Linked DNA regions of Homo sapiens: all the other regions are linked to region 4. Evidence: fine-mapped expression QTL. A gene starts in region 4. Each other region holds a variant in brackets. All regions are shown on one strand. Distances are from middle to middle.

Region 1 (5,107 bases), 26 kb before region 4:
AATAGCTAACACCTATGTTGCCCAGGCTAGTCTCAATCTCCTGGGCCCAAGCAATCCTCCTACAGAATCAATTTTGAGACCCTCACCTTCCCTATGTAACTCTTTCTGAAAACAGACGGGCATTCCTGTCTTTGCAACAGCTCCACTCTCCCTGAAATCTTACTATGGGGCATTCTTCCAAAGTTTAAAACACCTCAGGGCACCAAACAAAGGATAACTCAAAACACTGATCATCAAGATGTCTTCTTTGATGATTAATTATAGCCCATGGTCCCTTGAATCCATATGGCTTCCAGTTTTTATGTGTCTTCAACACATTTCTGTTATGGGTGAAATTTGGCCCATTTGGGGATGTTCTGGATTCAGAAAAACTGAAGACATACAGGTTTAATGGCATAGATGCTCTTAAATGTTTCTGAAATTCCACACCCCCAACACACCAAACGCCAAAATGTTCAAGCCAAGTTACAGAAATGTCAAAGGTAACAATTTTACTTGTATTCTTTACAGTACATTTTTCAACCAGGTAGATAAAATCAATTATCTCAAATTCTATTGTAAAAGGTATATCAAACTAAGTCAATCTTCATATTATTTTCATCTCATAATATGTTTAACAATTCCTACTTGCTATTAACAAAAACATACTATTATTTATGATTTAAAATATGGGATGTCACCTTACAAGCATGTGAAGGAGTATATGTTTTTTAAAAATTATTTCAGAGGGTGCAAAGACAAAAACCTTTGAAGACCATGCCCTTGAGAAAAGCCCTCGCATGGAGAAGGTGGCCTAGTAAACAAATGCTACAAGGCAAGGAGGGGAAGTCACTACCAGAGAGAAAGTGCAGGCAAGACTGAAGACAAGGAGGTGGGCATTCCAAGCAACAAGAAGAGCTTGTGCACAGGCAGAGAAGCAGCAAAGCCAACCTGGATGAGAGGTGAGGGGCAGGAGCCTCTGAGTCTAGAGACCAAGGAGAGTGGTGTGGGAGGAGAGGGGAGGCTCTGAGGACCTACAGTCCATGCTGAGGGGTGCAGATTTTACTCAAGCACCCTCAGAAGGTTTTTTGTTTTGTTTTGTTTATTTAAGATGGAGTCTCACTCTGTTGCCCAAGCTGGAGTGCAGTAGTGCGATCCTGGCTCACTGCAACCTCTGCCTCCCAGGTTCAAGCTATTCTCTGCCTCAGCCTCCAGAGTAGCTGGGATTACAGGTGCACGCCACCATGCCCAGCAGATTTTTGTATTATTAGTAGAGATGGGGTTTCACCATCTTGGCCAGGCTGGTCTTGAACTCCTGACCTCGTGATCCACCCACCTCGGCCTCCCAAAGTGCTGGGACTACGGGCGTGAGCCACTGCCTCTGGCCACCCTCAGAAGGTTATTTAAGCAGGGAAGGCTCATAACTAGATGACTGTTTCCACGCAGAAAATGCTGGCAGCAATATGAAGGATGAAATGGGCAGAGTAGACAACTGGAGACGGAGAGATGAGCTAGACAGCGGTATCTACAGAAACTTCTGCAGTGATGAAAATGTTACTCCTGCAATGCCCAGTATGGCAGCTACATGGGGCCGTTGAGCACCTGAAAGGTAGCTAGTGAGAATGAGGAACTGAATTTTTATTTTTATTTAATTTTAGTTAACCTAAATTTAAATGGCCTCATGCAGTTGGTGGCTACCATATTGAACACACCAGCTAGAAAGCTATTTCAAAATTCAATGAAGGATGACATGTCCTAAGTAAGGCAGGAGCAGGGGGGATAAAAAAGACAGATTCGAAGGCATTTCTGATGCAGAATTAGCGGATGCTGGTGACCAACCAGACACGTGGTATAAGGATTGAGTTAGGGAGGACAACAAGCTTCGTCTAACTGGGCGTCCTATGTTGACAGTGACAGCACATACTAAGACAAAGAACAGAGTGCAACAGAGATCTGGGGGGAAGACAACAGATCCGGAAAGGATTTATTTACTGTGAAATGTATTGAGAAGATCCAAGGAAGACGACTAGGGACAGCTGGAGAAAGGCCAGACAGGTAAAGATCTGGAGGTCTCCTTCCAGAGGCTGTGAAAGATGCCACTTAGGGAGGTGTGATCGATCATGCAAAGTGACAATAAGATCATGAGACCCCAGTGTTTAAAAGGCATTGAGAGGTGGAGAGGCCAGCAAGGGTAGAAGAAAAACGACCAGGGGAGGGAGGAGAACGAGGCGCAGAGGTAAACGTTTGAACAGCAGGGTGTCACTCAGGGTCAAGAGGAGCGGAAAGCAACAGAGGATGCGGCCTGAG[GAC/G]AAGCCGTAGGATTGGCAATACCAGGACCCACAGAGCCGGGAGGGAAGGCCAGATGACGAAAGCCATGGGTGGAAGACAAGACTGGGGCAGCACCAGCAGGGTTCAGAGGTGTGGGAGAGCTGGGGGATGGTTAGGATCACAGCAGCGAGGTCATGGAAACCCACCTCTCCTTCCAGGCCCTGCCATCCACTGATGCAGGTGACCATTAGATCCACATGGGGCACTCAGGCCCTGCTCTAACACCAGCCACATCATTATACCCCAAGTCTTTACTGAGACCATTTCTTCTAGGCCCCAATAGAAACTATCAGAAAAGTTCAAGTTACCTATTTTTGACGACTAAGTAAAAGGGTACCCAGCAGAAAGAGACCTTCTGAAATACAGAAGTGAAGCGAGCAGGGAATTTCACAGAAGTGGACATCATATTTACTAAATCCACAATCAGACTATGCTTTTTAAGACCTGCTGAATGGCATTTTTCAAACAAATCAACCTGATTCCACCACAGGGATTAATTACATCAAGCAGAAGGATACAACGCATCCACAGACTCTTGCTTATCAGTTTAAGAATCTTCAAAAGATTCCAGCACGTGGTAAAGCATAAGGGAACTTCCCCTGTGAGAATCTACACCAACTCCCTTCAAATCAACTTTGTTTTGACTCACTATCACTAATGAGAAGAATATTCATCATTGAATACAATTTTTGTATTTTGACTTTAAAAACCTCTTCGTTCACTAAAATTCACTCCACTTTTATAGTCTGTTGTATTCATTTCCTTTCCAGCCGCCTCCTCTCACTCTGCTCCAGTGTAGGCAGACAAGTTATTTAACACATACCAGATGTTCAATAACGCAGAAAAGTAACTATAGTTTACTGTGCACCTACTATGTGCCAGGCACTTGACAAAGCACTTTCACAAGCATTATCAGAATCTCACAACAATCTTTCACAATAGATACTCTAATCCCCATTTCAAGATGTGAGAATCAAGGCTCAACTTGCCCAAGGTGGTGTATCTGTTTGGGTTTTGTTTTGGTTTGGTTTGGTTTTTTTGAGACAGAGTGATGTGGCTTGGATCTGTGTCCCCACCCAAATCTCATGTTGAATTGTAATCACCAATGTTGGAGGTGAGGCCTGGTGGGAGAGACTGGATCATGGGGGTAGTTTCTAATGGTTTAGCACCAGCCTCCTAGTACTATCTCATGATGGAGTTCTCAGGAGATGTTTGTTTAAATGTGTGTGGCACATAACCCCTCTCCTCTCTTCCTCCTGTGTGGGCCATATAAGACCTGTCTGTTTCCACTTCATCTTCCGCCATGATTATAAGTTTCCTGAGGCCTCCCCAGAAGCCAAGGAGATGGCCAGCATCATGCTTCCCGTGCAGCCTGCAGAACCGTGAGCCAATTAAACCTCTTTTCCTTATAAATTACCCAGTCTCAGGTATTTCTTTATAGCAATGCAAGAACTGACTTAATATACAGGGTCTTGCTCTGTCTCCCTGGCTGGAGTGCAGTGGCTCAATCATGGCTCACTGCAGTCTTGACCTCCTGGGCTCAAGTGATTCTCCCACCTCAGTCTCCTGAGTAGCTAGGACTATAGGCATACATCACCACACCCAGCTAATTTTTGTATCTTTTTGTACAGACGGGGTTTCTCCATGTTGCCCAGTCTGGTGTCAAACTCCTGGGCTCAAATGATCCACCTTCCTTGGCCTCCCAAAGTGCCAGGAGTATTACATGTGTGAGCCACTGTGCCCAGCCACCCAAGGTAGTACAGACTTCAGGTTCAAACCATGGAATATCACAGTGAACAAACCATGGTAGGTGTTCAAAAGACACTGAATAGAAGTTACTCCCAGCTGGGTGTGGTGGCTCACGCCTGTAATTCCAGAACTTTGGGAGGCCGAAACGGATGGATCACCTGCGGTCAGGAATTCAACACAAGCCTGGCCAACACGGTGAAACTCTGTCTCTACTAAAAATACAAAATTAGCCGGGCATGGTGGCGGGTGCCTGTAATCCCAGCTACTTGGGAGGTTGAGGCAGGAGAATCGCTTGAACCTGGGAGGCGGAGGTTGCAGTGAGCCAAGATCGCGCCACTGCACTCCAGCCTGGGCGACAGAGCGAGATTCTGTCTTAAAAACAAAACAAAACAAAACAAAACAAAAAACAAAAAAATAAGGTACTCCAAGCCTCACATTCATTCCACTAAAATTATACTGGCTTGTGAAATACAATTTTTACATTAAGATAAAAATAAAAAATACAGGATTTCTGATTCTCCAACAATATGATAGGACTTCTTACACACATCACACATACGTGCACTGCCTGTGCCACAGTCAGACACAGTTGCTGCTTTCTGATCCATCAGACAATGCTGTAGCACACACAGCACATTCTAACCACATATTCATATCAGTGTCTCAGACACATGATGCTACTGAGTTCAAGAAATTTCAAGTACATTAACAACAAATATATATTATAGGCATCTTTTGTAACAGCAAGAGAAAGGACCTCATAATCTATTAATACTTTTCATCTACTATCATTACAATTTGATAGATACTAAAAATTGACTTCAGAGTTGCTATTCAAACATAATTCTTAAAACATGCTTTCATAAGTCATGTAGACTAATTCACAAAGAGACAATTAGCCTTTGACACTGCACTTAATTTAATAAGCCATTTCAGAATTTTAATAGAAGCATTAACAGGCGTGAAAGAGGAATGAACTTTTTTTTGAGACCTCATAACTTACAAATTAGCTAATTTTTATTTTTAACATAAATGTCAAAAAGCATAGTAC
Region 2 (5,107 bases), 220 kb before region 4:
CTTATTTAATTCTATTATCACTGCCTTATGGTCAGCAATGTGGTCTGGAAACACGCCTCCTTTTTGGAGGGAGCTTACTGAGTCCTTATGCACAGAATACCTGACTCTCACCCACAACTATACCATTTATTATGGTCCTTGCACGAATAGAGTTTAAACATTTAAGTAGTCATGATTTGACAGCTTAATTTGGTGCCTCTGCTCTAAATTGGTATAGTATAGTGGTATAGTAAAATCTAAATTCTTAAACTCGCATCCAATGTCAACTTTAGCCCTTAAATGAAGGTGAACATATCATATGCCAAAATGTGTAGCATAAACGAGGTAGACTAATGGGGGAGAGGCAAGTCTGCCAGGGATCAATTACACTATTGGATTTTATAGGGATCATGGGATCTCAATCCAATAGGCAGGTAAATTCCATTTTCCAAGCCTATTTTCAGATATACTAACTGAAATAGGGGCACAGGATTATTCCAAGGAAGTCTGAGGCAATAAGCCTTTTGAACTGCCTTTGTTAGTTTGCAGCAATAACATAAACAAGTACATGGACATGTTTTGGGTTATCTTTTCTTTATAATGTTTACTCTAGCTCAGAAATGGCCTTGAGAACTGGTACAAAAAGATAAAGTTATGAGCAGGGCAACTGGGTTATCTACCTGAAGACATTTCTCTTTAAAAGTGCTAAGGAGATTGATCACGCTCATCACCACCATGCAACTCACGAGACAGGGGAGCAGGTCACTGGGATACAACCTGAGGCAACACTGATACAAGGGAACCTGATTAGCCAAAGGAGGTACACATACTCAACCAAATTTTCATAAGCTGGCTACTGTCTCACCATGACATGCCACCCTATGGAGCAGCATCAAAAATTAAACACGTCATTAACTCCTTCCACATTATTTTATCTATCAATGTTAGAGGTCAATGCTAACTCCTCCCACATTATTTTATCTATCAATGTTAGGGGTCAGTGGTAACTCCTTCCACATTATTTTATCAATGTTAAAGCTCAGATAACCAAAGTCTTCTCCTTTGGCAAATAGAATATTACATTATTTTCTGTTTAATTTAGGCATTCATGTACCTGAGGGCACTGGCTAGGGAGAATTTCCATGTCATACTTTTTCCCTTCTGTGCCAACTACCACCCATACTCTTACTTCAGCTTAGAAATACTTGTTGATAATGAAACCACAGAACTAGAGGTTTAGGACTAGATGAAGCTTTCCTTACAGGTTCTTTGGTTCTTCATTTTACAGATGAGAAGACTGAAGCCCAAATTAATTCAGCACATGTCCAAAAGGATTACTATTTAACATTCACCAAGTTCATATTTGTAAAAGACCTAGAAGAGTATTGGGACAAAGTGTGGATGTCATAGTAGTTAAGTGACTTGTCCAAAGGCCTATGGCCCAGAAATGGCTGAAGTTATGACCGAAATCCCTAAATTGATCATTCAGTCCATGCACCATTTTGCCTTCTCTAATCCCCTGGAAAAAAAAATGCATTTTCTAGCAGTCATTCTGTTCTGAAGGAACATTTGAAAGGGGTGGAAGGGAACCAAGTAAAGACATAAACAAGGGTAGATACAGAGATAAGGTGATAAATATTGTTTGAAATCTGAAAGGTGATCACAAAATGCAAAAGGATATAAGAGGTTGAGAGCTGTGCTATGAGCTGGGATAGTTCTGGGCTGTGTAAAACTGTGTGTATTGAATACCTACTTACTCCTTGTTACTAGCGCTTCTCCTTTGGTTATCTTGATATGTATTTTTGACAAATACAGATAAAATAATAAAAGAGGCAGCCTTCTCTTAAGAAACTCATCTCTTAAGAGACAGGCATGAGAATGAAGCAGAATTCAGTGCGTTCAGTACTCTGCAGATAGTTACACAGTGAGGCCACACAGAGATCTTATCTCTGGTCTAATCTCTCCTGGGGCAGAAAGATCTGGTCAGAGTGAGAGACTGTAGTGTGTAAAGAACACCCCAGGGAAAGAGAAAATGGTGTTACCTCCCCTCTGGGTTGCTCTGGACAGAGGTAAAGACAGCGTCCCTGTGCTCTGGTGCTGGGTCATGCCCAAGAAAGTGCTAGAAGCATGGGGAGCCCAGGAAACAACTAGACCACCAGCCTGGGGCTTCTAAAATATGCAACTAACTTCTGGTAGCATCAGAGAATGAGGGTCTCCCCACAAGGCAGACAGGCAGACAGGGCTCTTCTGAAATTTCTACAAGGACTGAGTGGTTTGTAAAGAAAGCAGTCTCGTTCCTTCCATTTAGGGAGCAGTGAGCGCACATTCATGTTGCAGAAGCTTCCTCCTAGCAAGCTGCCTTTCACCTACTTCCCCTGTGTCCACTTGAGAGTGGATTCCAACTCCTGTTCCCAGAGGCTCAGGACCAGAGGCACTGATACCAGCTGGGTAGAGCGAAGCCACCATCGGGCCTCCCTAACGCATTACGCTAGTCACAGATGAGGGGCAGTGAACCCTCAACCTTCCGCATTTTGACTTCAAATGCACCTCCCCTCCTGGGAAAAGAATTTGATTTTGTTTCCTGAGGCCTGGTGTCACAGGTGATGGGGCTGTGCTAGCAGAGACTGAGAAGGGAAAAGAAATGGGGAGTGAGAAAGAGAAGGAAGGGCCCTGAGGCCTGAGAAGGCAGCAGTGGACTCGGGCGCCTCCAGGATGCTGTGACTCAGTTACACCATGAGAGTCTCACAGAGCGCAGGGCATTAAACAGCCCCTACTAAAATGATCCTGCCTCCTTTGTCAGTCCTAGCTGCCAGGTTCCCCAGTGCCAGAGCCTGCCATCGTAAAAACTCACTGAAGAATGCAGCGGCAAAGGGCAAAACGTCATAAGTCACGATCCCGAGGGCCCCAGGTTTACACAGTATCACCGTGAGGTCCTGAGGCTGCACGTGAAGCAAGCATCTTCCTTGTTTTGTCTACCTTTATCTGCGAGCTGGACAAAGGTGTTCCTGAAGGGGTAGCCTCAACCAAAAATGACAGAAGACAGTGTGGCAGCTGGATGGCTCTTAGAGATTGGCTAGCCCACCTACCCTCACTGACCCACATTTTAAGAGGAAGAAGCCGAGGCCTCAACAGCCAAAGACACTTGCATGGGTCAAGCCAATCACGCTGGAGTCTGTGTTTACGCCAGGTGAACAGACTTCTCGGCCTGTGCT[T/C]GTCCGGCGAAGCCCAGCAGCTCCCGCCTCCTAAATGTGTCCCCCACATTATACCTCAGTATGCTATGAGGAAAGACGCAAGGTGCTCTCCATACAATCACCTCTACTTTTCAGATAGGAAACAGAGGTCCCACCCAGGTCACAAATGGTGCCAGAGCTAGAATTCGGGTTTTCAGATTTCTTGCCTAGTGCTCCTTTTACTAAATGACATGATCTCCCTCAGGAAATGTCCTCACAGCCCAAGCCAGCCCCTGCTTGTTTTCATCATCCAACAAGGCAAAACATTCAAAACTTTGACCAGACGATGGGAGACAGACGGGCTCCCCTAAGATGCCGCACAGGCCCTGCAGGAAAGCACTCCCAGGGTAAGGGGTGAGGCCAGAGGCTGGTGAGTCTTTACCTTCAAATGCCCGTGCAGCATCCACGAGGTGGGTCCAATCTAACCCTGTGGCTGTGTCCGGGAGGGGCATCAGGCCAGGATCTGCGCACTTGGACTTATCTGATAAGGACCCATCGGAGAACCAGAACTCATCTAAACAGAAACAAAACCAGAGAGTCAGTCATCAGTCACAGCACGGGCACCAGCCCAGAGTGAGTCAGAACATGGGCACCACTGCCCCTCCCAGAGTCAGTCAGTCAGAACACGGGCACCACTGCCCCCTCCCAGAGTCAGTCAGAACACGGGCACCACTGTCCCTCCCAGAGTCAGTCAGTCAGAACACGGGCACCACTGTCCCTCCCAGAGTCAGTCAGAACACGGGCACCACTGTCCCTCCCAGAGTCAGTCAGAACACGGGCACCACTGTCCCTCCCAGAGTCAGTCAGTCAGAACACGGGCACCACTGCCCCTCCCAGAGTCAGTCAGTCAGAACACGGGCACCACTGTCCCTCCCAGAGTCAGTCAGAACACGGGCACCACTGTCCCTCCCAGAGTCAGTCAGTCAGAACACGGGCACCACTGTCCCTCCCAGAGTCAGTCAGTCAGAACACGGGCACCACTGTCCCTCCCAGAGTCAGTCAGAACACGGGCACCACTGTCCCTCCCAGAGTCAGTCAGGAGTCAGTCAGTCGGAGCACAGCACAGGCAATGCTATCCCCTCCCAGTGAGTCAGTCAGCACAGGAACCACCATCCCCTCCCAAAGTGGCCAAGATAATTTTTCCTGCTCTTAATGGAAAAAGAAAACATGAGGCTGCAGTTGCCCAAAAGGGATCTAGCTGGAAAAATGGAGGTTTGTAAAAAGCAGGCGAGTCTGCACTAGTGAGAGGTTGGCCAGCATGTAAGGGCAGGGATGGCAGGAAGATTAGAATCAAGCCTCTGTACACTATTGTAATTTCGCGGTTTTCTTCCAGGGGGCTTCTTTTGAGTACATCCAGGTCTGACTATTGCAAGACAAATCCTCATTTTCTTCAGGGGAGACCTTCCTCTTTTTAAAAGTGTTGCAGGGTTTACGTTGCTGTAAGAAGTATTGGAACAATCTCCATCCTGATTCATAAAGCTTACTGAGGAACACTTCTAAGCTGAGCACCACAAACTTGAGATGCCTCAAATACCAATTGATTATAAAAATGTAGTAAGACCAACTTTGCTTTTATCAATACATGAGATTGAGGATGCTATTTGATATACAAAGCACACACATAGTGGTTGGATTACCTTTCTGACTTAGTAAGGTAGTTTTATCAATGGCTAAAGCAGAAACCACTCACCCACCCTGTATTCAATGTTGGGTGGTTTTCCTTTGGCTATGAATGGACCTTTTCCATTTCTTTTTCTCCTTAAACTCTCATCAAGGTACTTAAGTGTTTATGTCATTAATAATACTCGTTGTTAAGAACTTATTACGCATCTGAGGACAAGTTCTAAAAAGGCTTCAACTGGACTTTAATGTGCCTTTTCTGAACCTGCCCAGAACAC
Region 3 (5,107 bases), 260 kb before region 4:
GACTGGCCACGATAGTGAAACCCCATTTCTTCTAAATATACAAAAAATTAGCAGGCATGGTGGCGGGCATCTATAATCCCAGCTACTTGAGAGGCTGAGGCAGGAGAATTGCTTGAACCTGGGAGGCAGATGTTGCAGCAAGCTGAGATCGCGCCACTACACACCAGCGGGTGTAACAGTGTGAGACTCCGTCTCAAAATAAAAAACAAAAAACGAAGTAGCTTCAAACCCATCAAACCACTTATCTGAGGTTTGTTAGACTGGAGAAATTTAACTATCTTATAAAAGTATCTGGGAACTTAAGATATTATTTTTTAAAAAGAGAGAAAGATTCTAACATTGGTGGTATCCTTCTTGAAAATTCAATATGTTGGGCAAGTCACTTCAACAAAACTGGGATTTTAGTATTTATCTATTAACTGAAATGTAGGCAATGGCAAAAAAAATGAGTTGAGGCCAGGTGCAGTGGTTCATACCTGTAATCCTAGCACTTTGGGAGACCAAGGTAGGTGGATCTCTTGAGGCCAGGAGTTTGAGATCAGCCTGTGCAACATAGTGAGACCCCTGTCTCTACAAAAAAAAAAAAAAAAAAAAAAAAAAAAAAAACAAGGCTGGACATGGCGTGGGTGCCTATAGTGCTAGCTACTCAAGAGGCTGAGGTGGGAGGATCACTTGAGCCCAGGAGTTTGAGGCTGCAGTGGGCTATGATTGTACCACTGCACTCCAGCCTTGGCAACAGAACAAGGCTCAGTCTCAAAAAAAAGAGAGAGAGTCAAAATATTTAAGTCAGTGTTTTCAAATATTTAGGTTACAAGAGTATAAGCGAAAGGTCCACAAGTATGTTGTGAAGACTAAAAATAGGCCTGCCTTATTCCTCCATGACAAGTAAATGCTGCTGCAGTTAAGCAGGTATGAAAGTCATCAGGGAACCCACGCTTCTGTGTCATGCATCTCCACAACCCAAGTGTTTGAACTCTTTCATCTGATGCATACATCTCATTTACTCAATCAGCATATAAAAAGATAACTCAGAGCCATCAGTCATGCGCAAATAAAAACCACTATGAAATGCCATTTTACACTCACTAAGATGGCTATAATAAAAAAAGACAATAACAAATGTTGGCCAGGATGTGACAAAATCAAAACCCTCATACAGTACTGGTAGGATTGTAAAATGGTGCAGCTGCTGTGAAAACCAGTCTGGCAGTTCCTCAAAATGAGGTTAAACATAGAGTTACCATATAACCCAGAAATTCCACTCATAGGCATATATATCCAAGAGAAGTAAAAATACATGTCCACAAGTACATGAATGCTCACAGCAGCATTATTCATAGTAGTCAAAAGCTGGAAACTACCCAAATGTTCATCAACTGAGGTATGGCTAAGTTAGAATATGGTATATCCATAAAATGCAATATTAGATGACAATAAAAATAAATGATGTTTACAAAAAGAAAAAAGGGAGTATCTATAGCAGGCCTGAACCTTGAACATATGCTAAATGAAAGAACCCGCTCATAAAGAACCATAGAGTGTATGATTCCATTTTTATGATATATCCAGAATAGGAAATCCATAGAGAAAAAAAGGAGAATAGTTATTGCCTAGAACCTGTGAGCCTGGGGAGAAATGGAGAATGAGTATGATAGCTATTGGGTACAGGGTTTCTTTCGGGGGTGATGAAATGTCCTAAAATTGAATATGTTGATGGTTGCACAAATCTGTGAATATAATACAAACCATTGAATTATACCTTTTAGATGGACGGAGTGTATGACATGTGAATTATATCTCCATAAAACTATAATAAAAGAAGAAATAACAAGGAAAAATCCCAGAATATTCATAGTCCAGATTAGCCAAATAGGACAATGAATCCATGCATCAAAAGAGAGAGAAGAAACATATTAATTCAGTATGTGGTAAAATTCGCATTTCCAATCAGCAGAAAAGTTATGAAATTATTTCATCGATTAGTTCAACACATTGTGACAGAAAAGTTGGCTACTCATCTGTGAAAGAAGAATAAAGTTAGATACTCTGCTCACATATATATAAAAACAAATTCCAAATTGGCCTAAGATGTAAATGGGCAAAATAATATAAGTTTTATAAAAATAAGCAAATAATCTTATAACTTTGGCATGCAGAAGTTCTTTCTAAACAAGAAGTAAGACCTAAATGTTCTAAAGGAAGTGGTAGACAATTGTGTTTACCTGAAAATCAAAACAATTTACGACAAAAATGTTATAAAGTTTAAAAATGAGCAAGACTATAAAAATATAGTCTTATATATTAGAAATATATAAGAAATATGTATTATATCTGTTATATAACATATATTCATAACATACAGAAAAAATTCTTAATGCACAAACTACAGAAGGAGTTCTTACAAGACCAAAAGTTAAAAAATAATCAATTTTATTATTGATTTTGCATATGCTTTTTAAGGGAAAAAGATATGAACAAGTAACAGATAAAGAAATTCATATGGCCAATAAACACTTGAAAATATACTAATGGAAATTCAATATAAGCAATATAATTTCTTTTTTATCTACTTGATTAACAAAAATTAAAAACATTGTAAACATCTAATGTTGGCAGGAAAAGACATTCACTCTCATTCGATGTTGGTAGAAGATAAATTGGTATATCCTTTTGGGATCAAAATTTGGCAGTGTCGGCCAGGCATGGTGGCTCATGCCTGTAATCCCAGCACTTTGGGAGGCCAAGGTGGGCAGATCACGAGATCAGGAGATTGAGACTATCCTGGCTAACATGGTGAAACCCCGTCTCTACTAAAAATACAAAGAATTAGCCGGGCGTGGTGGCAGGGGCCTCTAGTCCCAGCTACTCGGGAGGCTGAGGCAGAAGAATGGCGTGAACCCGGGAGGCGGAGCTTGCAGTGAGCCGAGATGGTGCCACTGCACTCCAGCCTGGGCGACAGAGCAAGACTCCGTCTCAAAAAAAAAAAAAAAAAAAAAGACAAAAAACAAAATTTGGCAGTGTTTATGTAATTTTATATTCATATGATCTTTGCAGTTCCAATTCAGGAAACTAACCTTAAAAAATACCTGCACAGGTGCACAAAAATTTAAGTAAACATTATTTATGGAAGC[A/G]CTGTTTGTAATAGTAAGAAACTGGGAAAACCCCAAAAAGTCTGTTCCTGGGAGATTATCACCTGAACTGCAGGACAGTCCTACCATGCAATCGTATGCAATTGTTAAAATAATACACACTGACATAGAAAGACCTCCAAGATCTATTCTTAAGGAATAAAAAATAAGTCTCAAAATAATAAACATGGAAAGATCCCATTTATATAAGACTTGTATATAAATATAGATGATGATCCACAGACACCATTACTATGGGGCATGTGATGAAAGATGGAAAGTTCCTCTTATTCTACAGCTGTTTGGTGTTTTTCAATGAGTAGGTTTCTATGTATGATTTCATAAATTTTAATTGATGCTTAAAATGATAAAGGACACAGTGTAGATTAATTCTAAGTTCCTTTCCAGCTCTCCGCATCTATGACTCTGTAACCGTCAGTAGCTACTGCCTCCATCTGCTTTCATCACTGCAGAGGCAGACAACACCACCCTGCAAGATAGTCGACTTTCAGACTTGAAGCCACATCCATTCTGCTAAAATGCACAGGTGTTTAGCTCTGTTTCTTTAACCAATGACATGATCATATTACACTAAGCTTATCTTGGTGTCAAAAGCAAAGCTTGGGTTTGATGGCATGAATCAGGAGATGGCCAACAATGCGGTGCTTGAAGGCTGAAGAGAGTGCTGACTCAGAGTCTCCTTAGCTAGACTGACTGCAAAACTGAATACACAAGGGACTTGCAGAGAGGAAAACAGGGGCAGAGGAATGCAAGGTGCTCCGTGGTTTCCCCACCTGTCCTTTGACCCTTTGCTGTTTAGGAGAACAGGTGAGTTAGCAGAGAACCCAGGATGGCCGTCAGAGTGTTTGCTGTGTCTTAGGAAACAGACCCTGGATAGTCGTGCTCTGGTGAATAAACTGTTCAGTTATTTAAATTTATGGCTAAGCATGGTAGGATATCTTCTTCCAGTTTGGGTTGCAGCTATGGCGTCAGCAGAAATCTACGTAAGACTCAGAAAAACTGGGCCCAAAATGTACACAATCTTCGTTAGGAAATGTTGATGTAAAACAGCAGAAAATCTCTCAAGCTATAATTTCCAACAATTTGCAGTAAAAAAAAAATTCATCTATAAATATATACCATTTATATATAAATGATATATATTATTTTAATAATATATCTTTTATAATATGTATAAATTACTTATACATATTTTCTATTATATATAATATTTTGTATTATACATAATATACAATATATTTTCTATTATATATATTTTGTATTATATATAATATACAATATATTTTCTATTATATATAATATATTTTGTATTATATATATTACAATATATTTTGTATTATATAATATATAATACAATATATAATATATTGTATTATATATTATATAATACAATATATTATATATTGTATTATATATTATATATAATACTATATAATATATTGTATTATATATTATATATAATACTATATAATATATTTTATTATATATTATATATAATACAATATATAATATATTGTATTATAATACAATGTATTATAATGTATTATATTGTATTATATATTATATATAATACAATATATAATAATATATTATAATATATAATAATAATATAATATAATAATAATATATATTGTATTATATATTATATAATACAATATATAATATATTGTATTATATATATTTTATTACATATAATATATAATACATTATATAATATATTTTGTATTATATATAATATATTTTATTATGTATTATAGATAATATATTTTATTATATATTATATATAATACAATATATAATATATTTTGTATTGTATATAATATATAATACAATATATAATATATTGTATTATATATAATATTAATATATTTTGTATTATATATTTATATTTTATATTATAATTATGTTTTGCATTATATATTTCATATTATATATACCATATTTATATATGTCATATT
Region 4 (5,107 bases):
AGCATCTAATGAAAAACATATACTTAAAGCAACTGGGTAAAATCTGTGGCCCATACTAAAAGCCAGAAGCTCCACCCCCATACCTGTGATCTAGCTCTTGCTTTTCCGGATCAAGTGCTTACACTGCTTCTTATCCAGGTTCATTTCACCCCATCTATAGGTAGAATGTGGGTACTGATAAAAGCTGTTTCTGATTTCATTTCCTACTTCCCAGATGTTTGCTCTGTAGTTTTTCTTCTTTTTCCTTCAGCTATTTATGAATACACTCTAATTTAGAACAAATTCAGTATGTCTTATTTTAAGCTGGGCAAGGCACACAATAAATGATAGCTACAAAGATAATTTCAAGATATTTACTCAGCGTATAAATAAGTTTGCCTACCTAGGCAAGATTTGGACAGGCTGCCGTGATCTTGCTTTAGAATAAAAGTGCTTAAAAACATAACTGGGAGCCTGCTGCTGCTGCTGCTGCTGTTACTGCTGAAACTACGGGCTATTGTGCTTGTCATAAAAGGGCTTGTGCTTAGAAATGAAAAAATCAAACATCCTCTGGGGAGATGTCCCTAACACAATCCCTGGTATGAATCATGCAGATACTTTAACTGCATCTCTTCCCAAAATGGATCAATGGAATCTTTTAGGAAGAATCAATGTGATTTATACCCAAAACTTAAGAAAGACTGCATTTTTCTCATGAATAATACTCTCTTATAACTCTGAATCAAGCAGTGAAATTCAATCAAGCGGTAAACATCTTTTAACTGGAAATATTGTCTAAACAGAATGACAAAACTAACAGAACTCTGAATTCTTTAAATAAGTCCAAACATGAAACAAGCATTCTTAAATGATGTAACTAAATACAGTAACCAAGTTGTCTCTTGAAATTCAACTTTGGGAATGCCAAAAATAATAGGCCACCTCTCAATATCCGCAAAAATATCGGTATGTGTAGGTTTTCTAGGAAAGCAATAAAAAGCAACAGTTTGGGAGATCTTTTTTCTTCAATTACTAATTGTAACACTAGAAAAATTACAACCTAGGCTGCACACAAACGCGACTCAAATGGGCAGTTTACTAAATGTCTGTCATAAGAAAGCCATCTAGTGTTAACGTTTAGAATGGAGACTGCAGACAAAAGAGGCAAAGAAAAGAAAAATCTGTGCGACTATTTTGAACTTACTGGGCAAAGACATGAGAATCACCAAGATTCTTTGAGGGTTTTTTTCCTTGTTTTTTTTAAAAAAAAGCCATCCTTGTCAAAACCCAGTCTCAATCTAACCAAAATCCAAAATGTCTACAATTTTGTTTTGACCAAAATCATGTTTTGGTGAGCACAATTCCGTAACCAATGCACTTGATTTTTTCCAATACTCAGGCCAGAGTCATCTTGGGCTGAATTAATTTAACTCAAGCAGGTTAATGATGACAAATATCTCCCACAGGGGTAATGCCAAGTTGTTCTCTCTTTCCGAGAAGCCTCGGCTCTCTCTTGCAGATGATGAGCCGAAATTGATTCTTTGGGTTTGCGGCACGGCTGAAAATTAATCTGTAGGTGTTCCCAGGGATATTCCCAGGACGTGGGCAAACTACCCTCACTGACACGGGAAGACCCGGAGAGGCCCAGGAGCTGGCAAAGTGGGAAGAAAGGTCGCGGTGAGTGAGAAGAGCGCTCGCCGGAGGCTCCCGGTCTTACAAAGAGGGATCCGTCCCGGTGAGGGCGCGCGCTCCGGGCGCACCCCCTCTAGAAGGGGAATTAGCCCCGCAGCAAGTTCGGCGTCAGCTGGCCAGGCGCGCCGGGGAAGCTGCGTCGGGCAACCGCGAGCCCTTCCAGAGAGCGTTAGTCAGAGCGAAGTTCTGGGCACCTGGAGAAGACCCTCCTCAGTGCCTGTGTCGCCGAGACGGGAATAACCTTTCAGCCGATCGATAACTTGGAGAGAACAGGCGGCGGCGGCTCCTCTTCCAGCCGGGGATCGGGAGCGCGGGCGCATCTGCGTCTACAAGCCGGACCCTGCGCCGCGACCCTCGCACCCCCGCGCCCCTCGCACCCCTCGCCGCCGTCAGCCCCCCAAAGCGCCCCGAAGGGCATCCCCTTCCCCTTCGGGACAGTCCCCGCCTGGCCGCAGGCATCCCGAACCGACCCTCGCCACGCTGCCCGTCGGATTCCCCGACACGAACCTTCGCAACGCCGTCCGCCGGAACCTGCTACAGCCTGTGCGCGCCGGGCGGCGCGTACCCGGGCTGCCGCCTCGCCGCCCGCCGCTGCCCGGGGCTGCCCATCGGCCCGGACTCTCCCCGCGCCGGGCTCCGGCGGAGGCGGCCCGGACCCGCTGGCTGCGGCTGGAGCTCTCGGCCTGCGCTCGGGCGGCCGGCGGGGGCGCGGTGCTCCTCCTCCGTCCTCCTCCTCCTCTCGCTCCGCCAGCTCCTCCCGGGCTCCCAGTCTGCCGCGCCGGCTCCCGATGCCACCGCCCGCCCGCCCAGCGGCACCGCCCCCCGCCCGCTCTGCGGGCTCCCATTGGTCGCTGCCTGCAGGCCCCCTCGGCCCCGCCCCACGATTGGGCGCGGACGCCGTCAGTCTCACCGTCCGCCCGGCTCCGGGCGCAGCCGGTGCGCTGTTCCCAGGCCCCGCGGCGCGCGGGAGCTGCGCGTCCAGGAGGGGCCCGGACGCCCTTCTTGGGGAGGGGGCTGCGGGGCGCATCATGAGCGGCGCTGGGCGAGCTCGAGGGCCGGGCAGCCTACCTGGACCCCGGCTTCTAGAGAGCCGTCGCCGTCCTTGTCGAGACTCGCTTTCGCCCCTCTGAGGAATAAGTTAAAAACCGCGAGTCTGGTTCTGAGCCGCCCCCTGGCGCAGGCGCGACCCCACCCGGCCCTCCCGTCTCCCAACTTGGGACAGACGCGGCGGCCGGGCGGTCGGATCCGTGAGCCTCGGCCGCTGGGGCTACATACACAGCCCAGGACGCCACAGAATCGCCGAGGCCCCGCGAACGCCCAAACGGCCGCAAGTCGAAGTGATCCCATCTGAAGAAGACAGCGCGAGGAAGCGAGACCCTGCTGTGTGCCGGCCCCCGGAGGGCGCCCCGGGCCCTGTGGGTCGGAGGGTGGGGAAGCACAGAGAAACACGCAGGCAGTAAAACGTTAGGAGGACAGGGGGTGCCAGCGTGCAGGAAATGCTGCTAAGAGACCTTTAGGAGCCAAGGGGAAAACGGAGAGATTGGCAGTTCCAGGCACCCACATCCCAGCGCGGTCCGCTCACCCCTTCCTCCCTGCCCTCCAGGCAGCGCTCAGCCCACGGTAGAAATGTCTTGCATCTTTTTTCCGACGAGGAAGAATTGAACTTTTTATACCCAACTTTTCTGCTTTCTTAGAAATGTTGACTCACCTGTGAGGAAGCATTATTTGAAACTATTATTGTAAATTGCTTGACATTTGAATTAGATGCTGAAAGATTAAAGGGTCTCAGAAGAATCTTTTAAGCTAGACTGGAATTGACTCTGCCTAAATGGACAGCAACAGTCATCTATACGCAGGAATAATAAAGCAGGTGGAGGCAGCCTCTAACTTACCTTCCAGCCACACCGTAGAATTTCCTGAGCAGGCTTTTTTGTCAGAGTTTTGAGCTGGGTTCCCTGAGACTGGATTGGGGCTTTCAGTTTCTCCCCTTCTAGAGTCAGACTTCTTCCTGAAGAAAAAGTGTTATCTCTACTTCCCTATCACAAACACTTCCTAGAACACAGCCCTGTTAAAAGGTAAATAGAGGCGGTCCTTCCCACACTATATTTCTCTGTGATCTGAAGCATGTACACATTATACAATCTTTCGTATCTTTTTAAATTATAGGTATAATCTGTGGGATTAGATATAACTAAACAGGTCAAGAAGCAATCCTGTGACATAATACAATTCCTGAGCACTCCAGGTTTTGATGAGTTTCCCAATTGTCACCCCATTATCAGCATTTACAAGATTGTCATGTATTCATTTAACAAACATTTATGAAGCCGGGCGCGGTGGCTCAAGCCTGTAATCCCAGCACTTTGGGAGGCTGAGGCGGGAGGATCACAAGGTCAGGAGATCAGGATCTTCCTGGCTAACACGGTGAAACCCAGTCTCTACTAAAAATACAAAAAATTAGCCGGGCGTGGTGGCAGGCGCCTGTGGTGGCAGGCACCTGTAGTCCCAGCTACTCGGGTGGCTGAGGCAAGAGGATGGTGTGAACCCGGGATGTGGAGCTTGCAGTGAGCCGGGATCATGCCACTGCACGCCAGCCTGGGTGACAGAGTGAGACTCCGTCTCAAAAAAAAAAAAAAAAAAACAGATTTATGGAGATCCTCTGATGTTCCAGACCATACTAGGTGCTGGGAATATAAAATGCACAGGACATAAGGCTCGGCTTTTCAAGAGCTCACCAACTCACAGGTGTATCCTCATATGTTGTAGATACTCTACAAGAGGTATCAATGTTATCTCCTGTGTACTCAACAAAACCCTGCAGGAGGAGCAGCCGTGAAGGAACTTTTCCTGGGAGTGCCTAGGGAGGACATGATCACATTTCACCTTATTGCGTGTTTCATTGTCTATAAGGGCCTTGAGGAGAAGAACCACATCTCCTCCAGCATTTTGATCCCTAAGGCACAAATCCACTACAATCCGGAGCAGATCCTTGGTCAGTGGGTTGTCATTGAGGTGGGTCTTAACTGCTGCAGCTACAAATGTACACTGTCTAATAGATGAAGAGGAACCCATCCCTTTGATGTGTTCCTTAATATCCAGTACATAATGATCATATATGGAAGGAAGTCTGACCAGACACTCTTCGATGACGGTGTTAGCCACAATTCTCACTCTCTCACCTTCCCATCCCACTTCTTGTGCTTTCCAAACTAAAATTGAAATATCCTAAGCCCCACTACCAAGGTTGGCAGTATTTTTTTTAATGCCTGTAATTGATTGTGCAGAGTAAATATTTGTGTACGTTTATGAAGGTCCGTGGGAGTTTCTTACTTTCCCAGAACTCCACGTCACATGAGGCTGGCCTTCATCGGAATGTTCCTGCTTTCAACAAACAGGTCCTGAGTGAGCCCCTTTGCTGTGCAGAACAATGGTGATA
Region 5 (5,107 bases), 770 kb before region 4:
CTGTTGTTTACTGCACAGGATTGAGATGAGTGTAGCAATCTCCTAGACGAAGGGCCAAGCTGCTCACCCACCTGGGTGGGGTGGTCAGTCTAGGGCGGCCCAAGGGGATTCTTGGGTCACGATGACCCTGGGGCTGATAACCAACTCACAAATACATAAATCAACAACATGAGGCTAGCTTCTGCTGGGGCTTTGTTGTCTGGTGGGCCTGAGTTTTAATCCCGGCTGACCTCTTACTAAGCGATTGTGGGTAAGTCATTCTAATTTTTTTCTCTCTGAGCCTCAAATTCCTCATCTATAAAGTGAGCATGAAATCCTATTCTAGTCATTCTGAGGGACAACTGAAGTGATATATGTGATAATATGAAATATGATAGATGTGATATATAGAACTGTAAAACTTTTAAAAAGTAAAATGCCTGTTAAATTGTTAAATATGTGTAATATGTGAAAAACTCCTGGCAAATATACCTACTAATATCCATTTCCATATAGTTCTTTTATATAAAAGGTAGAGCAGTATATGTAAACCTTCTAATAAAACACTTAGCTATAACTATGAATTCTCATGTGCTCTTCCTGCTGTCAGCCTCTCCTCCTGCTGTTAAATCTTTGCAAGGCCTCCTCTAGTTGTTATGTTCTGAAAAGATTCAAGTTTGTATCCTAGACTTCAAAGTTATGTCTCTCCTATGTGGTGTGTAGTGTATCACCCTGTACTTGGAGGTATGTGATACAAGAAACTAAGGAACTAAAATAATTCTTTTTTTTTTTTTTTTTGAGATGGAGTCTCACTCTGTCGCCCAGTCTGGAGTGCAGTGGTACGATCTTGCTCACTGCAACCTCTGCCTCCCGAGTTCAAGCAATTCTCCTGCCTCAGCCTCCGGAGTAGCTGGGATTACAGGTGCCCGCCACCATGCCTGGCTAATTTTGTATTCTTAGTAGAGATGGGGTTTTACCATGTTGACCAGACTGGTCTAAAACTCCTGACCTCAAGTGATCCACCTTCCTCAGCCTCCCAAAGTGCTGGGATTACAGACATGAGCCACTGTGCCTGGCCCCTACAATAATTCTTTAATGTGAGGAAATATCAAATGAAAAATAAGAAATTCTAGGTAAGGAAAGAAATTTATTTAGTGGAAGTATAAAAGAAGTTTAAAAAGTTGAAGAAAATTTTGGTTTTCAATGTTGATGCAGCGTCCTTTGTGAATCTTTAAATTTGTGAATGACACTTTTGAAAACTTACACCTTATTCTAAGTGTCTTTGTTCACTTTACACTGTACTGTAAAGAATCACAAGAGTGTCTCATAAATAACTTTCTATATAACATATGTATATTTCAAAATAACATGTTATATATATAATACATACAATTTTTGTCAATTAAACAGTACATTAAAAAGACAAAAATAACTTTCCATAAATGAGCTCAAGTTATTTCATCCACAGTGATAGAATGTTCCCCATTTGATGCAAGCAGTTAAACTTAATTTCCATTAAGACAAACACACAAATAACAATCCTCCTTCCCAAACTTGAAATCCCACTTCTCTTTTTGAACTCTCTTCATGAAGTAGTCCCTTTTCTTGCATTTACAACATAAAGCCTAAACCACAAATATTGGAGGGCAGGGGTTGAGGATGAGCAATTGAGATGTTCCTCATGCCCTTAAACCAAGAGTCCTTATGTTCTCTCCTTCCTAAGGATGGCTTATTTTCCTTTCCATGAAATGACTTTAAGGGTGATTATATCCAAAGGGAAGTGACGTTTCCCCTTCTTTCTCTTCAGTTGGTCCATTTTCACAGCCCACAAAAGCAAGTCTCTATTTTGGGACTTGATTCAAAGTCTGAAAAAACCCTAGGCACATCTTTCTTCCTTGAATATGTTCACGTGCATATTCCAAAAAAGGTTCTCATTGCTAGTTAGGCCATTAATTTTATGTGATATCCAAATCAAACAGCTGCTGTACTGTTTAAGCTCAGATCCTAAAATGGCACTTTGAACATGAAAGTCGTGGCTGCCACTCTCTGGGTGACTATCTGGCGATGACACTTCTACCTTTGTTTTTGGCTTGACGTGCATATGCCGAAGGCTTCAGCAAACATAAACTCATACAAATGTTTGTCAAGCTGTGTGAGCCTAAACAGCTCATTAGTTGCAAGAATGATCAGATGGGAGATGGGTTGCCCAATTTGGATGGTGACCTTTATGAGCTCTCGGTTGGATTGCAGATTTATGTGTCACAGTATATTGGAACATAATGAATCCTGTGGCATGTGGATGGTAAAATGCAGGGCAGAAACTGTGCAATGAAGAGGCAGGAAGAAGGTGGCAGGTCCAGGAGCATAAGAGCAGTTAATCATCTCCTTTCCCCCTTCCCCTATTCTGCTTCCC[C/T]TCTGTTCTCGGGGTGCCCATTAAAATGCAGTTGGTAATGAAATGCTGTTTGAAATCAAAGTTGCTGAAACGATATTGTGGATATTGTGGAAATCTGTCATATTTATTTTAAGGATGAGCTTACTTCCAGGTGCTTTCAGTGACTGCAGCCCCGTTAGTTCCCATGCATTGATTCTCTCTCATGTCCCTGCTCCAGGGTAATTCTCTTGTGCTCAGGCACATGACCTTCTAGTTGAAAACCTGCCCCTGCCATTTCTTTATGTGGCTGCGGCCCAGGGAGCTTGCCTGCCCTGCGTGAGCAGGTTGCAATGATAATGGTTCCCAGTGCTGCTCAGTGGGGAACTGAAGTCATGGTATTTTCCTTCATATCCTCTTGAAGCTTCATTTTGTGACCTTGTTTCATCCTGCTGAACCTATCATTGGAATTACCCCAAAGGTGGTGGCAGGGGAGTCCCCAGAAAGGAGTGCCCCAAACTTTCCCAAGATGGGGCCTACTGAGATTCCAAAGAAAGAAGCAGTAAAAGCCGGAGTGATCAGGCCAAAGCATTCATTAGGGGAACTTAGGCAGAGTGGGCTGCAGCAATCCTGCGGCGGCAGCATGAAAAAAGGGGTCTTCCACCTAGAAACATCCACAGCGAGGTGCTCAGGGGATGGAGTTTACATGAGGGTTTAAGGAATTTGGCTCAGGGCCAGGGCCAGTTTCTTTCAGTGTTTTGGGCAAAAGCTTAGATACCTTTATCAATGTGTGGGAATGTTCAAGGCCCTGGTTTGGGTTCAAGCCTGCTGGGAAAAACCTGCAGCTGTCTGGGTCACAGAGCGGTCAAGGCACTCTGTGAGTTTTGGTCACAACAGAAAGGCAAGGGCTCTAGGGGACCCTCCAGAACTACAGGCTCCAATGTCAGCCCCACTTTCCCAAGTACAAATTTATTTCAGAAATTAAAGTACTACTCTTACTTTTTCACACATTTCGAAGTCATGTGTTGACATGGATAGCCTGTCTAGCACAGGAAAACTCTGATCTATTTAACTGATTTAAAATGTTTATAATTGATTATCTGGATAAGTGTCATTGATGGCACTCCAGGTGTGTGAAGACGCCACTGGCCTGGGAATCACGACATGTGGGGTTTGTCCCAGATCCCTGCCATGCCATTTAAACACCATGGGCCTCAGTTTCCTCACAGCAAAAATTAGGGTTATACTAGATATTCTCCATGGACCTTGTCAAGTATTTTTTGTGATGCTGGGATTTTATAACTAACACAGGCAAACAATAACCTAGAATGATTAGAATCTTGAAAAAATTGTTTGTTTGTTTGTTACAGAGAATCTTGAAGTTAGCTGAAGTCTGTTTGACTTTCTTCCGGAATCAGCACAGTCCAAATGCAGCCATGACTTCTCACTGTCAGAACTAGACGGGCCACACTGAGAAAGAATGTGGACCGGCTACCCGGAATCTGGCCGCTTAGTGCATTCAAGAATGCTGCTTGGTTTCTATGGCTGTGATTTCCAAGCATTTTCTAAAAGGTTTATAGAGGAGAAACCTAAGTGCCTGCCACCACCCCACCTTGAAGTCAAATTTCCCTGAAGGCACTGGAGCATAGGGAGAAAAACATCAGCTAACTCTTGCCGCTATAGGCCCGGGTTAAATTGCAGCTGGGAAATTCATTCCAGTGGCTTGCCGGGCTAAACACAATTGTGGATGGAGCCTGGAGAAGCATCCAAGCAAACAACCACTTGTGTCAGTTCAGTTGTTTCACCAAAAAAGCAAAATAAAACAGATTTTACTAACTCAATTAATAATTCAGTTGCCCCATAAAATATAGCCTCACTGAATTTCTTGTCTTGTCTTCCAAGACATTAAGTCAGGGCTTATTTATAGCCATGGCTCTCTTCCCTGGCTAAGCATCCGGGCCACCTGCCCCAGCAGGTGAGCCCTTGGTCCAAGGTGGTCCTGGACTCAGCATGTTTTTCAGAGTTCTCCAGGTAATTCCAATGGTTAGTCAATTTATCATTCATTTGGGGCTGATTATCAGTCTTCCATGTGGATAAAACCAGTTAATTTCCTGTGGATCTTTTTTGAAAGCCTTATTAAGAGGAGGGAGCCCTGTTTTGAACTTGTGTCATGAGCTCTGCCTGTCTCTGGAGGTGGCAAGGGTGCTCGTCTTCATTCTGGTCTGTGTCGCATGCTGTCTTCCTCTGTCTCCCTACTCTTTCTCAACCTTCTTATTTACTATTCCACACACTCGCTGGGTTAGACAACCTTTTCTGTTGTTCTGCTGAAGGTTACAATTTGGAGTCGATTCCTGTAGTCTTCCTTTTTCTATTCACTTTCAAAAAAGATGTTGCAAAGTCCAAGTTTCTTCCTCATGTTCCGTTTCTCTGGGGAGTGCTGTAGAAGTTTCCATACCTTCCTGCTTCTGGCCTTCTTAGTATTTTAATAACTCCTGCCTTGTTCCCAGGTTTCTCCAAGTATCTGGGGAAAGTAGAAACCTCAGAGATGGGGTCTGGAAATGTAAAACGTTGATGAATTTCAGGGTCACCCTTGTGAAAGCTATTGATTGGTCAGAGGTATTCTGGAAAAGTCTGCAAAATCCAGAAGCTAATTTCTATTTTAAAATACACCCTATAACTCTTGAGTGCCCACTCATCCTCAGCTGGCTCTGGGGAATGGTGTCTGAGCTCACGGTCTCATCTGTGGGAGCTGCATCTCAT

Direction of the effects. Alleles are on the strand shown, and positions count from the first base shown. SD is a standard deviation of normalised expression in the study named. Not every link is listed here.
As copies of T replace C in region 2, the expression in tibial artery of the gene that starts at base 2,443 in region 4 goes up (small effect, 0.20 SD a copy in GTEx).
As copies of C replace T in region 5, the expression in ovary of the gene that starts at base 2,443 in region 4 goes down (moderate effect, 0.40 SD a copy in GTEx).

The links. PIP is the estimated chance that this variant, and not a neighbour inherited with it, causes the effect.
Region 1: its variant is the best candidate, but not a certain one, in a credible set for the expression of SIPA1L2 in whole blood (TOPMed, PIP 0.75).
Region 2: its variant is the best candidate, but not a certain one, in a credible set for the expression of SIPA1L2 in tibial artery (GTEx, PIP 0.55).
Region 3: its variant is the best candidate, but not a certain one, in a credible set for the expression of SIPA1L2 in whole blood (TOPMed, PIP 0.75).
Region 5: its variant is the best candidate, but not a certain one, in a credible set for the expression of SIPA1L2 in ovary (GTEx, PIP 0.56).

Annotation. Positions count from the first base shown.
Region 1 is chr1:232,601,263-232,606,369 of GRCh38, forward strand. All of the region lies in intron 1 of SIPA1L2 (signal induced proliferation associated 1 like 2), which reads right to left. Among named protein-coding and RNA genes, the nearest start is that of SIPA1L2, 26 kb to the right of the region's middle. The variant GAC/G (reference allele first, on the strand shown) is at 2,287.
Region 2 is chr1:232,411,903-232,417,009 of GRCh38, forward strand. It overlaps SIPA1L2 (signal induced proliferation associated 1 like 2), which reads right to left. Exons shown (of 23, transcript NM_020808.5): 19 at 3,592-3,723. Among named protein-coding and RNA genes, the nearest start is that of SIPA1L2, 220 kb to the right of the region's middle. The variant T/C (reference allele first, on the strand shown) is at 3,192.
Region 3 is chr1:232,363,697-232,368,803 of GRCh38, forward strand. It overlaps LOC105373196 (a long non-coding RNA gene), which reads left to right. Exons shown (of 3, transcript XR_949273.2): 2 at 3,537-3,675. Among named protein-coding and RNA genes, the nearest start is that of SIPA1L2, 260 kb to the right of the region's middle. The variant A/G (reference allele first, on the strand shown) is at 3,132.
Region 4 is chr1:232,627,691-232,632,797 of GRCh38, forward strand. It overlaps SIPA1L2 (signal induced proliferation associated 1 like 2), which reads right to left and starts at 2,443. Exons shown (of 23, transcript NM_020808.5): 1 at 2,179-2,443. LOC124904551 (a long non-coding RNA gene) reads left to right here and starts at 2,892. Exons shown (of 2, transcript XR_007066943.1): 1 at 2,892-3,746; 2 at 5,067-5,107. RefSeq lists silencers at 2,221-2,320, 2,381-2,860.
Region 5 is chr1:231,853,959-231,859,065 of GRCh38, forward strand. All of the region lies in intron 9 of DISC1 (DISC1 scaffold protein), which reads left to right. The region is part of intron 12 of TSNAX-DISC1 (TSNAX-DISC1 readthrough (NMD candidate)); the gene reads left to right. Among named protein-coding and RNA genes, the nearest start is that of DISC2, 38 kb to the left of the region's middle. The variant C/T (reference allele first, on the strand shown) is at 2,393.